Regions from separate parts of the Homo sapiens genome. Here region 2 is linked to region 1. The links come from fine-mapping of genetic effects on gene expression. Tissue or cell type: hypothalamus. Region 1 holds a variant in brackets; the other region holds the start of a gene. All regions are shown on one strand. Distances are between the middles of the regions.

Region 1 (5,357 bases):
CCGACTCCTACAACGCCTCGCTGGCCGCCTACCACCCCTGGGTCGTGCGCCGCGCCGTCACCGTGGCCTTCTGCACGCTGCCCACACGCGAGGTCTTCCTGGAGGCCATGAACGTGGGGCCCCCGGAGCAGGCCGTGCAGATGCTAGGCGAGGCCCTCCCCTTCATCCAGCGTGTCTACAACGTCTCCCAGAAGCTCTACGCCGAGCACTCCCTGCTGGACCTGCCCTAGGGGCGGGAAGCCAGGGCCGCACCGGCTTTCCTGCTGCAGATCTGGGCTGCGGTGGCCAGGGCCGTGAGTCCCGTGGCAGAGCCTTCTGGGCGCTGCGGGAACAGGAGATCCTCTGTCGCCCCTGTGAGCTGAGCTGGTTAGGAACCACAGACTGTGACAGAGAAGGTGGCGACCAGCCCAGAAGAGGCCCACCCTCTCGGTCCGGAACAAGACGCCTCGGCCACGGCTCCCCCTCGGCCTATTACACGCGTGCGCAGCCAGGCCTCGCCAGGGTGCGGTGCAGAGCAGAGCAGGCAGGGGTGGGGGCCGGGCCTGCAAGAGCCCGAAAGGTCGCCACCCCCTAGCCTGTGGGGTGCATCTGCGAACCAGGGTGAAGTCACAGGTCCCGGGGTGTGGAGGCTCCATCCTTTCTCCTTTCTGCCAGCCGATGTGTCCTCATCTCAGGCCCGTGCCTGGGACCCCGTGTCTGCCCAGGTGGGCAGCCTTGAGCCCAGGGGACTCAGTGCCCTCCATGCCCTGGCTGGCAGAAACCCTCAACAGCAGTCTGGGCACTGTGGGGCTCTCCCCGCCTCTCCTGCCTTGTTTGCCCCTCAGCGTGCCAGGCAGACTGGGGGCAGGACAGCCGGAAGCTGAGACCAAGGCTCCTCACAGAAGGGCCCAGGAAGTCCCCGCCCTTGGGACAGCCTCCTCCGTAGCCCCTGCACGGCACCAGTTCCCCGAGGGACGCAGCAGGCCGCCTCCCGCAGCGGCCGTGGGTCTGCACAGCCCAGCCCAGCCCAAGGCCCCCAGGAGCTGGGACTCTGCTACACCCAGTGAAATGCTGTGTCCCTTCTCCCCCGTGCCCCTTGATGCCCCCTCCCCACAGTGCTCAGGAGACCCGTGGGGCACGGAACAGGAGGGTCTGGACCCTGTGGCCCAGCCAAAGGCTACCAGACAGCCACAACCAGCCCAGCCACCATCCAGTGCCTGGGGCCTGGCCACTGGCTCTTCACAGTGGACCCCAGCACCTCGGGGTGGCAGAGGGACGGCCCCCACGGCCCAGCAGACATGCGAGCTTCCAGAGTGCAATCTATGTGATGTCTTCCAACGTTAATAAATCACACAGCCTCCCAGGAGGGAGACGCTGGGGTGCACTGGGTGCCTGATTTCCTGCAGGGGGACACAGGGGCACCCAGTGAGGGTGGGGAGGGCCCTCACCCCAGGGACACAGCTGAGGTGGGTGCACCTAACTCCAAGGGAGCTGAGGCCCCACTGCCAGGCTCAGGGGGCTGTGTTAGCCCCAGGGCTCAACAAACACCCTGAGAAAAGGCCAGCCTTGGAGGCAGGGCTGCTGTGTGCCCATTCTCCCAGAGAGGTCCCATCACTATGCCTGTTGTACAGGTGAGACAAGAGAGAGACAGAGTCACCCAGAACCAAGAGGCTGGGTTGGGAGGACGGTTGGGAGGGCAGACATCCGCCTCTCCATGCAAAAGAGGAGAGGCCTGCGTGGGATGTGTGCGTGGAGGTGGGGGCCACTCCCAGCCACAACAGTGGCCTGGACAGAAAGGGGATGCAATTCAGCAGAGTCTTCCTGGATGTCACCCCCACCTCAGGGTCTGTGGGAGCTGCATATGGTGCCGGCAAAGGCTGCCGACTGCAGTATGGGCCGGGAGAACTGCCTGGGTCTGCGTGGGCCCCAGGGCAGGGCTCCCTCCGGGTGTTGCCTTCTGTACAAGTGCCATGCTTGTGCCGTTTGCGTGTCCCAAGTGCGAGTGTGCTATTTGCGTGTGCCGCACGTGTGCCGTTTGCATGTGCTGTTTGCATGTACCATGTGCATGTGTGCCATCTGTGCAATGTGCAGGTGCCAGTTGCATGTGCCATGCGTGTTGGCCGTGAGCGTGTGCTGTTTTCGTGTATGTGCCATGCACGTATGTGCTGCGTGTTGGCCGTGCACGTGTGCCACGTGCATGTGTGCCATTTGTGTATGCCGTGTGTGCTGTGAGCGTATGCTGTGCGCATGTGCGTGCCATG[T/C]GCTTTGCGTGTACCATGTGTGTGCTGTTTGCATGTGCCATTTGTGTCATGCACGTGCCATTTGCGTGCGATGCGCGTGTGCCACACGTCGTTTGCTTGCGTGCCATGCATGTGTGGCATTTGTGTATGTGCCGTTTCCGTGTGTATTGTGTGTGCCGTGTGTGTGCCATTTGCATGTGCCGTTTTGTGTGTGCCATGCGCGTGTGCCATGCACTTGCCGTGCGTGTGCCATTTGTGTGTACCATGCGCATGTGCCATTCGTGTGCACCGTACACGTGTGCCATTTGCATGTATGCTGTGCACGTGTGGCATGCATGTGTGCCGTTTGCATGCCATGCATGTGTTCCTTGCGTGTGCCGTGCGTGTCCCATGCACGTGTGCCGTGCATGTGCCATTCGCGTGTACCATGCGCATGTGCCGTTTGTGTGTGTGCCGCATTCCTGTGCTCGTGTGCCAGGTTCGCATGTGCGCCATATTCACGTGTGCTCAGCATGTGCCATATGCATGTGCGGTGGTAGTGTGTGTCCCTCACAGGTCCTCCTCACAACACCATGGGGAAGAAGCACCAGCCAGGGCACACCTCCTGGTATCTGCTAGGTCTGCCAGGCCCTAGCTGAAGCTGAGTGCCCCCCAGTTCCCCTGGGAGGGCCTGCGCCTGGAGTCTGCTGTGTCCCCGAGGGCACCCCCAAAGCAACACAGAGGCAGAGGAGTCCCGGCCCTGCACACCTGGTGCTGCTCCAGCTGCCGCTCATTTGCCTGTGGCCCTTCCTCCCTTGTTTGCGTGCCCCCCTGGCAAACAAACTCTACCCCCAGCAGGAGCCACCTGTGTGCCTGCCACGCAGGAGTGGCCCAGACGGGGGTCAGCAGTGTGAGTACAGCTGGCCATGCGGTTCCTACAGCTTCCAGGCGTCAGACTCTGGCAGAAGGGCTGAGACCCTCAAGGAACTCTGCTCCCAAGCAGACTGGGAGGGCAGCACCACCACCCCAGGGCCCTCCCCAGCTGCAGGGTGGAGGCCTGGCTGGCCGGCTGCCCACTGGCCTGACTGGTCTGCAGGCCTAGGGGGCCCATCCCTGCTGCCCCCGGCTCCGGCCAGCACAGCCTTGAGTGGGAGCCAGAAGCTCCCGGGGCTGGGTAGGAGGCATTTCTGTGCTTATGAAAAGCCCCAGGGCTGGGTGTCTCTGCATCCCTCCCACGCAGCTGAGACCTCAGAGCCCTGGAGGCCCCTTTGCCCCCTCTCCTCTCCACAGCCTGCTGGGCAACTCCAGGAATCGGGGGGTGGCAAGGGGCTCAGCCACAGGCAGGGAACAAGGCCACGGCCAGCAACTGAGCAGAGCCTGCCTGCCGGTCAACGCTGGCCATAGAGCCTGGCAGTGGCCTCAGGCAGAGTCTGACGCGCACAAACTTTCAGGCCCAGGAAGCGAGGACACCACTGGGGCCCCAGGGTGTGGCAAGTGAGGATGGCAAGGGTTTTGCTAAACAAATCCTCTGCCCGCTCCCCGCCCCGGGCTCACTCCATGTGAGGCCCCAGTCGGGGCAGCCACCTGCCGTGCCTGTTGGAAGTTGCCTCTGCCATGCTGGGCCCTGCTGTCCTGGGCCTCAGCCTCTGGGCTCTCCTGCACCCTGGGACGGGGGCCCCATTGTGCCTGTCACAGCAACTTAGGATGAAGGGGGACTACGTGCTGGGGGGGCTGTTCCCCCTGGGCGAGGCCGAGGAGGCTGGCCTCCGCAGCCGGACACGGCCCAGCAGCCCTGTGTGCACCAGGTACAGAGGTGGGACGGCCTGGGTCGGGGTCAGGGTGACCAGGTCTGGGGTGCTCCTGAGCTGGGGCCGAGGTGGCCATCTGCGGTTCTGTGTGGCCCCAGGTTCTCCTCAAACGGCCTGCTCTGGGCACTGGCCATGAAAATGGCCGTGGAGGAGATCAACAACAAGTCGGATCTGCTGCCCGGGCTGCGCCTGGGCTACGACCTCTTTGATACGTGCTCGGAGCCTGTGGTGGCCATGAAGCCCAGCCTCATGTTCCTGGCCAAGGCAGGCAGCCGCGACATCGCCGCCTACTGCAACTACACGCAGTACCAGCCCCGTGTGCTGGCTGTCATCGGGCCCCACTCGTCAGAGCTCGCCATGGTCACCGGCAAGTTCTTCAGCTTCTTCCTCATGCCCCAGGTGGGCGCCCCCCACCATCACCCACCCCCACCCAGCCCTGCCCGTGGGAGCCCCTGTGTCAGGAGATGCCTCTTGGCCCTTGCAGGTCAGCTACGGTGCTAGCATGGAGCTGCTGAGCGCCCGGGAGACCTTCCCCTCCTTCTTCCGCACCGTGCCCAGCGACCGTGTGCAGCTGACGGCCGCCGCGGAGCTGCTGCAGGAGTTCGGCTGGAACTGGGTGGCCGCCCTGGGCAGCGACGACGAGTACGGCCGGCAGGGCCTGAGCATCTTCTCGGCCCTGGCCGCGGCACGCGGCATCTGCATCGCGCACGAGGGCCTGGTGCCGCTGCCCCGTGCCGATGACTCGCGGCTGGGGAAGGTGCAGGACGTCCTGCACCAGGTGAACCAGAGCAGCGTGCAGGTGGTGCTGCTGTTCGCCTCCGTGCACGCCGCCCACGCCCTCTTCAACTACAGCATCAGCAGCAGGCTCTCGCCCAAGGTGTGGGTGGCCAGCGAGGCCTGGCTGACCTCTGACCTGGTCATGGGGCTGCCCGGCATGGCCCAGATGGGCACGGTGCTTGGCTTCCTCCAGAGGGGTGCCCAGCTGCACGAGTTCCCCCAGTACGTGAAGACGCACCTGGCCCTGGCCACCGACCCGGCCTTCTGCTCTGCCCTGGGCGAGAGGGAGCAGGGTCTGGAGGAGGACGTGGTGGGCCAGCGCTGCCCGCAGTGTGACTGCATCACGCTGCAGAACGTGAGCGCAGGGCTAAATCACCACCAGACGTTCTCTGTCTACGCAGCTGTGTATAGCGTGGCCCAGGCCCTGCACAACACTCTTCAGTGCAACGCCTCAGGCTGCCCCGCGCAGGACCCCGTGAAGCCCTGGCAGGTGAGCCCGGGAGATGGGGGTGTGCTGTCCTCTGCATGTGCCCAGGCCACCAGGCACGGCCACCACGCCTGAGCTGGAGGTGGC
Region 2 (5,357 bases), 28 kb after region 1:
CGCGCGTGAGCCTTGCGGTGCCCCCGACCCCGCGGCCCCGGACCCCTGCCCCGACCCCGCGGCCCCGGTCCCCGGTCCCCGCACCGCGGATGAGCAGCGAGAAGTTGCCGTCGTCGAAGGCCGAGGCCGAGAGCTCCAGGCGGCCGCGGTCCCGCGCCTCGTACACGCGCTGCTCGCCCGCCGAGTACAAGTCCAGCAGGCGCCGCGCGGGGCCACCCCCGGGGCCGCGCAGGTCCCAGTGGAGCACGCGCTGGCGGTCGTGCAGCCGGTCCTGGGTCCACACCATGCGCGGGCTCTGGCAGCGCAGCACCGCCCGGGCGCCCGCCTCCCAGCTCACCGCGGACTCGGACACCACGGAGCTGCCAGCAGCGGCGGGTACCGAGGACCCTGGTGGGGGAGGGGAGTCGGTGGGGGAAGGGGTGGGCCCCCTAGGGCCCTGGTTGGGGGAGTCAGTGGGGGAGGGGCAGGGCCCTGGTGGGGGAGGGATGTCTGTAAGGGACGGGCAGGACCAGAGGGCCCTGGTGGTGGAGGGGAAGTCCGTGGGGTGGGGCAGACCCCCGAGGGCCTGGATAGGGGAGGGGGAGTCACTGGGGGAGGGGCGGACCCTGATGGTCCTGATGGGGGAGGGTGAATCAGTGGGGGAGGGGCGGGCTCTGAGGACCCTGGTGGAGGAGGAGGAGTAACTGGGGGAGGGGTGTGCCCCAAGGACTCTGGCGGGGTTGGGGGCATCTTTGGGGGGGTGTGGGCCCCTGAGGCCCCTCGTGGTGGGGGAGATTCCATGGGGGAGGGGCATGCCCCCTAGGGCCCATGTGGGGGAAGGGGAATCATTGGGGGAGTGGTGGACCCCCGAGGGCCCTGGCAGGGGAGGGGGAGTCCATGGGGGAGGGCAAGTCAGTCGGGGAGACATGGGGCCCAAGGACCCTAGTGGGGGATGGGGAGTCCATGGGGGAGTGGTGGGCCCCGAGGGCCCTGGTGGGGAAGGGGACTCAGTAGGGGAGGGGCAGACCCCGAAGGCCCTGGTTGGGGAAGGGGAGTCAGTGGGGGCATCTGTGGGGGAGGGGTGGGCCCCCGAGGGCCCTGGTGGGTGTGCGGGAGTCTGTGGGGGAGGGCCAGGCCCCCAAGGGCCCTGGTAGGGGAAGAGGAGTCATTGGGGGAGGGGGAGTTATTGGCAAGGGGAGGTGCCCAAGGGTCCTGATGAGCAAGGGGGAATCAGTGGGGGAGGGGCAGGGCCTGAGGACCCCCGGGGGCTGGGCCTGGCAAGATAGGAGGGGCTGAGGGGGAGTGGGGGTGGGCAGCTGGGGCTGGGGTCACTAACCTGAGTGCAGGAGAACAGCAGAGCCTGGAAGGAGAGGAGTGAGCTGGAGAGGCCACCCACAGCCCCACCCAGCCCCGAGACCCCCCACTTGGCCCCCAGAGTCCCTCCTGTAGTCCCAAAGTGGATGCTGTGACACCCACTTCAGTGCAGGGAGGACGCCTCTCACACAGACCTACATAGCCCTCCCTGCCACCGTGCTGGGCTTTGGATGGCACCTGCCCTTGAGTGGGGAAGCCAGGGCATGGGCGTGGGCCAGGGCCAGGCTCCAAGCCAGCCGGTTCTGGGGTGTGTGCTTGTCACCGGGGCCACTCCACCTGGCTGCACCCAAGTCACCCAGAGCACCAAGGAGGCTGGATCTGTGGGTTCCCCCACGCTCCCTCCAGGGCTGTGCCCCAGCCCCCGAGGGTCCTTGGACCCTCAGACGCTGGGGACCCCACACCACACCTAAGGCTCAGCGCAGCCCCTGAGGTGCTTCCGCAGGGCAGAGGCCTGAAGGCTGAATGTGGGTCGTGACCCCGGCTGCCGCCCCACAGGCCCGCGTTGCTGCTTGAGGGACTCTCATTGTCGTAGGCCGCCTCGGCATCCACTCTGAATCTAGGCTGGACTTTCTCTGACCGGAAGCGGGGCTGCCACCCGGGACAGTTTCCAATTCACATCCCCCGTCCTCGAGCTGATCCACCCAGACGCCCGCCCTACGCACTGTCCCCTGGTGACCACCCCCTGTGTCCCCACAGACCCCACGCCCCACATGGACTGTGCAGCTGCACCACGGAGTCCCCCCACAGTCAGCGTGGCCCCACGGGGCTCGTGCCGCTTGCCTTAAACCCACCAGTTAAAACTCCCCCACCAGGCATGGTGGCTCACGCCTGTAATCCCAGCACTTTGGGAGGCCAAGGCAGGTGGATCACCTGAGGTCAGGAATTCAAGACCAGCCTGGCCAATATGAAAAACCCCATCTGTACTAAAAATACAAAAAATTAGCCGGACGGGGTGGTAGTGGGCGCCTATAGTCCCAGCTACTTGGGAGGCCGAGGCAAGAAAATGACTTGAACCCGGGAGGTGGAGGTTGCAGTGAGCCGAGATCACGCCACTGCACTGCAGCCTCCTTGGCGAGAGAGAAACTGCCTCCAAAAAAATTCCCTGAGGGAAACCTGTATGCAGAACGCCCTGATCCCAATAAAGGGTTGGCCTGGGGGTCCCTGTCTCTCTCCACTTTCCCTGGCCTCCCAGCAGTCTGTGCACCCCAGGGCCCGTGGGTGATAAAAGCTGTTTCTATCCTGTGTCTCTAGATCACTGGGGGCTGCTCTCCCTCACATAGATCCTATGTGAAAACTGCCCCAGAGATGTGGCCGAGAGCCTGGGAGCTTCCCAGAGGAATGTGCCCGGTCAGCAGCCAGCCCAGGCCTGGGAGCGGGGGCTGGAACAGACCCCACAGTTCTCAGGTCCCCTTCAATCACTGACCCACTCCCTAAACAGAGCCCCAGCAAGAGGGGCTGCAGGAGGGGCCCCGAGGGAGACGCCGCCGTGCCTGGGCCCCCAGCCCTTCTTGGCCCTCTGGGCTTCAACTCCCTAGGAGGGGAGGCTGGCCAAAGTCTAACTGAAGACGTCACAGCCTCTGGCAAGCGGCTCTCCCGAGCGCCCCCAGACCCGTCCTCTTCCCTGGTGGGACCTTCCCACTCCTCCTGGCCCAAGCTCAGATGGGCGGTTTTGTCCGAAACGGACTCGCACAGCCCCACGTGCCACCCCCCACCCGCCTCCCAGGGCCCCACACTCACTCTGCAGAAGCACAAGTTTCCAAAGCAGGATTCGGGATGGCAGCGCCATGGCCCCCGCCCAGCCCCAGGCTTTGTCCCACTCGGCTCTAAGTCTCTCTCCAGAAAAACAGCCCTACCCCCTCCCCCTCCTTAGCACCCGCGGTGACATCACGGAGGCCTGGGCCTGTCTACGGTCTGGGGACCGCCCCCTCTGGCTCCTGCCGGGCCCCTTGGCCTCCCCCATCGTTGCTGGCCTGCTGGGGAGGGGCAGTGTGGGAGCAGAGGCCCAGCCCCTCACCGGTCAGGCCTGGGGAGGGGTGGTGACCGCACCCTTGGAGGGACAAGAAGGTCCGAGGACATGGGCCCCTGATACCACGTGATCGTGTCTCACGTCTAGGAGCCTCCCGGGCCTGTGGTGAAGGGTTGGGACTGTTGGGTGAGTGGCCCCTCCGCCCCACCTCTGGCCTCCCCCCACGTGAGCCACCTCAGGGCAGGGTCCTCCCCTCAGTCTGCTCCAGGCCCCAGAAAGGCCTCCCAGCGCTGAGACCGCCCCCACCCACGGTGCACGCTGGTGCTCTCCTTCAGACCAGATGGCCCTTCCAGCTCCAACCCTTGGCCCTGCATGACCTTGGTACCCGTCTCCTCTGGGGGCCACGGTGGGCTCCCTTGGGCCAGGATGATGGACGCTGCCAGTCACTAGTCCCCTTTACAACCTGGAGAGTCAGCCAGGGACAGGGGACCCTGAGCACTGGGAGGCCTGGGGGTGCTGGGGTGAGCAGACCTCTCCCTGCTGGCCCCGTCCCCTGGGGCTGCCCGCCTTTAGGGTGCAGCCTGGTGTCCCTGAAACCAGGTGCTGGATTACAAGCCTCCTGGAGAAAGGGGAGAGTGGGACCCCTGCCATGGAAGGCACAAATTTGAAACTGTGGGAAAACTTACAAAGTCACATAAACAAATGCGAAATAACAGCCTGCACTGTGTAGCAAACCCAACTCCTTCTAATCAAGCAAACCTCAAGAAAAAACAATCTGAACAACCACAACCACTAGAAACCCTCAGTGCATAGTTCCGCCCGCCCACTTGGAGTGAGCTCTCCTTACAGGCCCCGAGGGCCCCAGCTGGGTGGGGGGCTCACCCCTGAACCCTGCTCTGGTGCCCAAGTCCTCAGACAGTGGGAAGCCCAGTGCAGATCAGAGTGGTGGTCTCAGGGCGAGGGGAGGGGAACCTGCGGCTGCTCCAGTGAGAGGAACGGGCAGGACACGGACCGGCGTAAGGACAGAAGACCCCACCCCACCCCAGCCCGGTCAGACCCATTTCCTCAGCAGGGTCCTGGCCCGGGCGGCGACCTTTCCAAACTGGCTTCAGGGCTGAACACATCCCGCCACCCCCACTCCCTCCCTGGGCCTTTCATTCTGGAAAAACAAGCCCCACCTGGCTGGCCTCGAGGCCTCTGCTGGCCTCTCCTCCTGTTTTTCCAACTGGTTTGTATTAGTGCTGGCAGCTGCCCGCCCGCCCATGTCTGTCTCCGTCGCACACTCTGGGGCCTTGGCCTCTGCAGTCTCTGTCTCCTTCCGTCACTCTCCCTGTTCCCTCTCTCCCCATGGAGGGAGGACGGACAGCAGTTTGGTGGGGGGACAGGGTTGGCCCTCGGGTCTGGGAGGGCCCGGCTCTGGGTGCAGGGCTGAGAGGGGCGCCTGGTCCGCACGACAGCCTCAGGCCAGGGCTCGCCTCACTCTGCAGGGCCGTCCCTCTCCGGGCAGTGGCCTCCAGCCACACTTTCGGGGACCCAGCCAGCGGAGATGCAGGCCAGAGGCTGTCGTCTGAGAGGGCCCTGACCTCTGAGAGGGCCACCTGGGGGCAGCTGACCCCCATGGGGCCCTGGGCAAGGAACAAAAGGCTGATGAGGCCATCAGGCCCCTTCCCTGACCCTCCCTGTCCGGCCCTCAGTGGGAAACAGCCACAGAGAAGAGCAGGCCTGGTAGTGACCAGGTCACCTGCTCCTCCCAGGGCCAGTGACCTGTGCCTCTTCTGCACCTTCCTGGGCTGGGACTGTGGAGCCTCTGCTCGCTGGGGGGTGGTCTGCAGAGCTGTGGGTGTGTGACTTAATTCCCAGCCTGGCCTGGCATTTTTCTCCCTCTGGGAAGAGGACAAACCAGGACAAAGCCACTGGCATCACTGTGCTCTGGCTAAGCCCCCAGCCAAACCAGCGCCCTGGACCGTCCTCCTAGCCCCACCTCTGGGGGTTGGGGTGGAGCAAGAGGGGTCAGCTGGCCCCACGGCCCGCACTGAGG

Alleles and levels. Alleles are on the strand shown, and positions count from the first base shown. SD is a standard deviation of normalised expression in the study named.
As copies of C replace T in region 1, the expression in hypothalamus of the gene that starts at base 3,190 in region 2 goes up (moderate effect, 0.54 SD a copy in GTEx).

The links. PIP is the estimated chance that this variant, and not a neighbour inherited with it, causes the effect.
Region 2: MXRA8 starts here. The variant in region 1 is the best candidate, but not a certain one, in a credible set for the expression of MXRA8 in hypothalamus (GTEx, PIP 0.70).

What each region holds. Positions count from the first base shown.
Region 1 is chr1:1,327,534-1,332,890 of GRCh38, forward strand. It overlaps CPTP (ceramide-1-phosphate transfer protein), which reads left to right. Exons shown (of 3, transcript NM_001029885.2): 3 at 1-1,363. The coding sequence ends at 230. TAS1R3 (taste 1 receptor member 3) reads left to right here and starts at 3,747. Exons shown (of 6, transcript NM_152228.3): 1 at 3,747-4,003; 2 at 4,105-4,405; 3 at 4,491-5,273. The coding sequence starts at 3,813. The variant T/C (reference allele first, on the strand shown) is at 2,241.
Region 2 is chr1:1,355,366-1,360,722 of GRCh38, forward strand. MXRA8 (matrix remodeling associated 8) reads right to left here and starts at 3,190. Exons shown (of 10, transcript NM_032348.4): 1 at 3,091-3,190; 2 at 1,316-1,339; 3 at 85-387. The coding sequence starts at 3,139. RefSeq lists enhancers at 1-26, 1,151-1,703, 2,291-2,873 and a silencer at 3,204-3,323.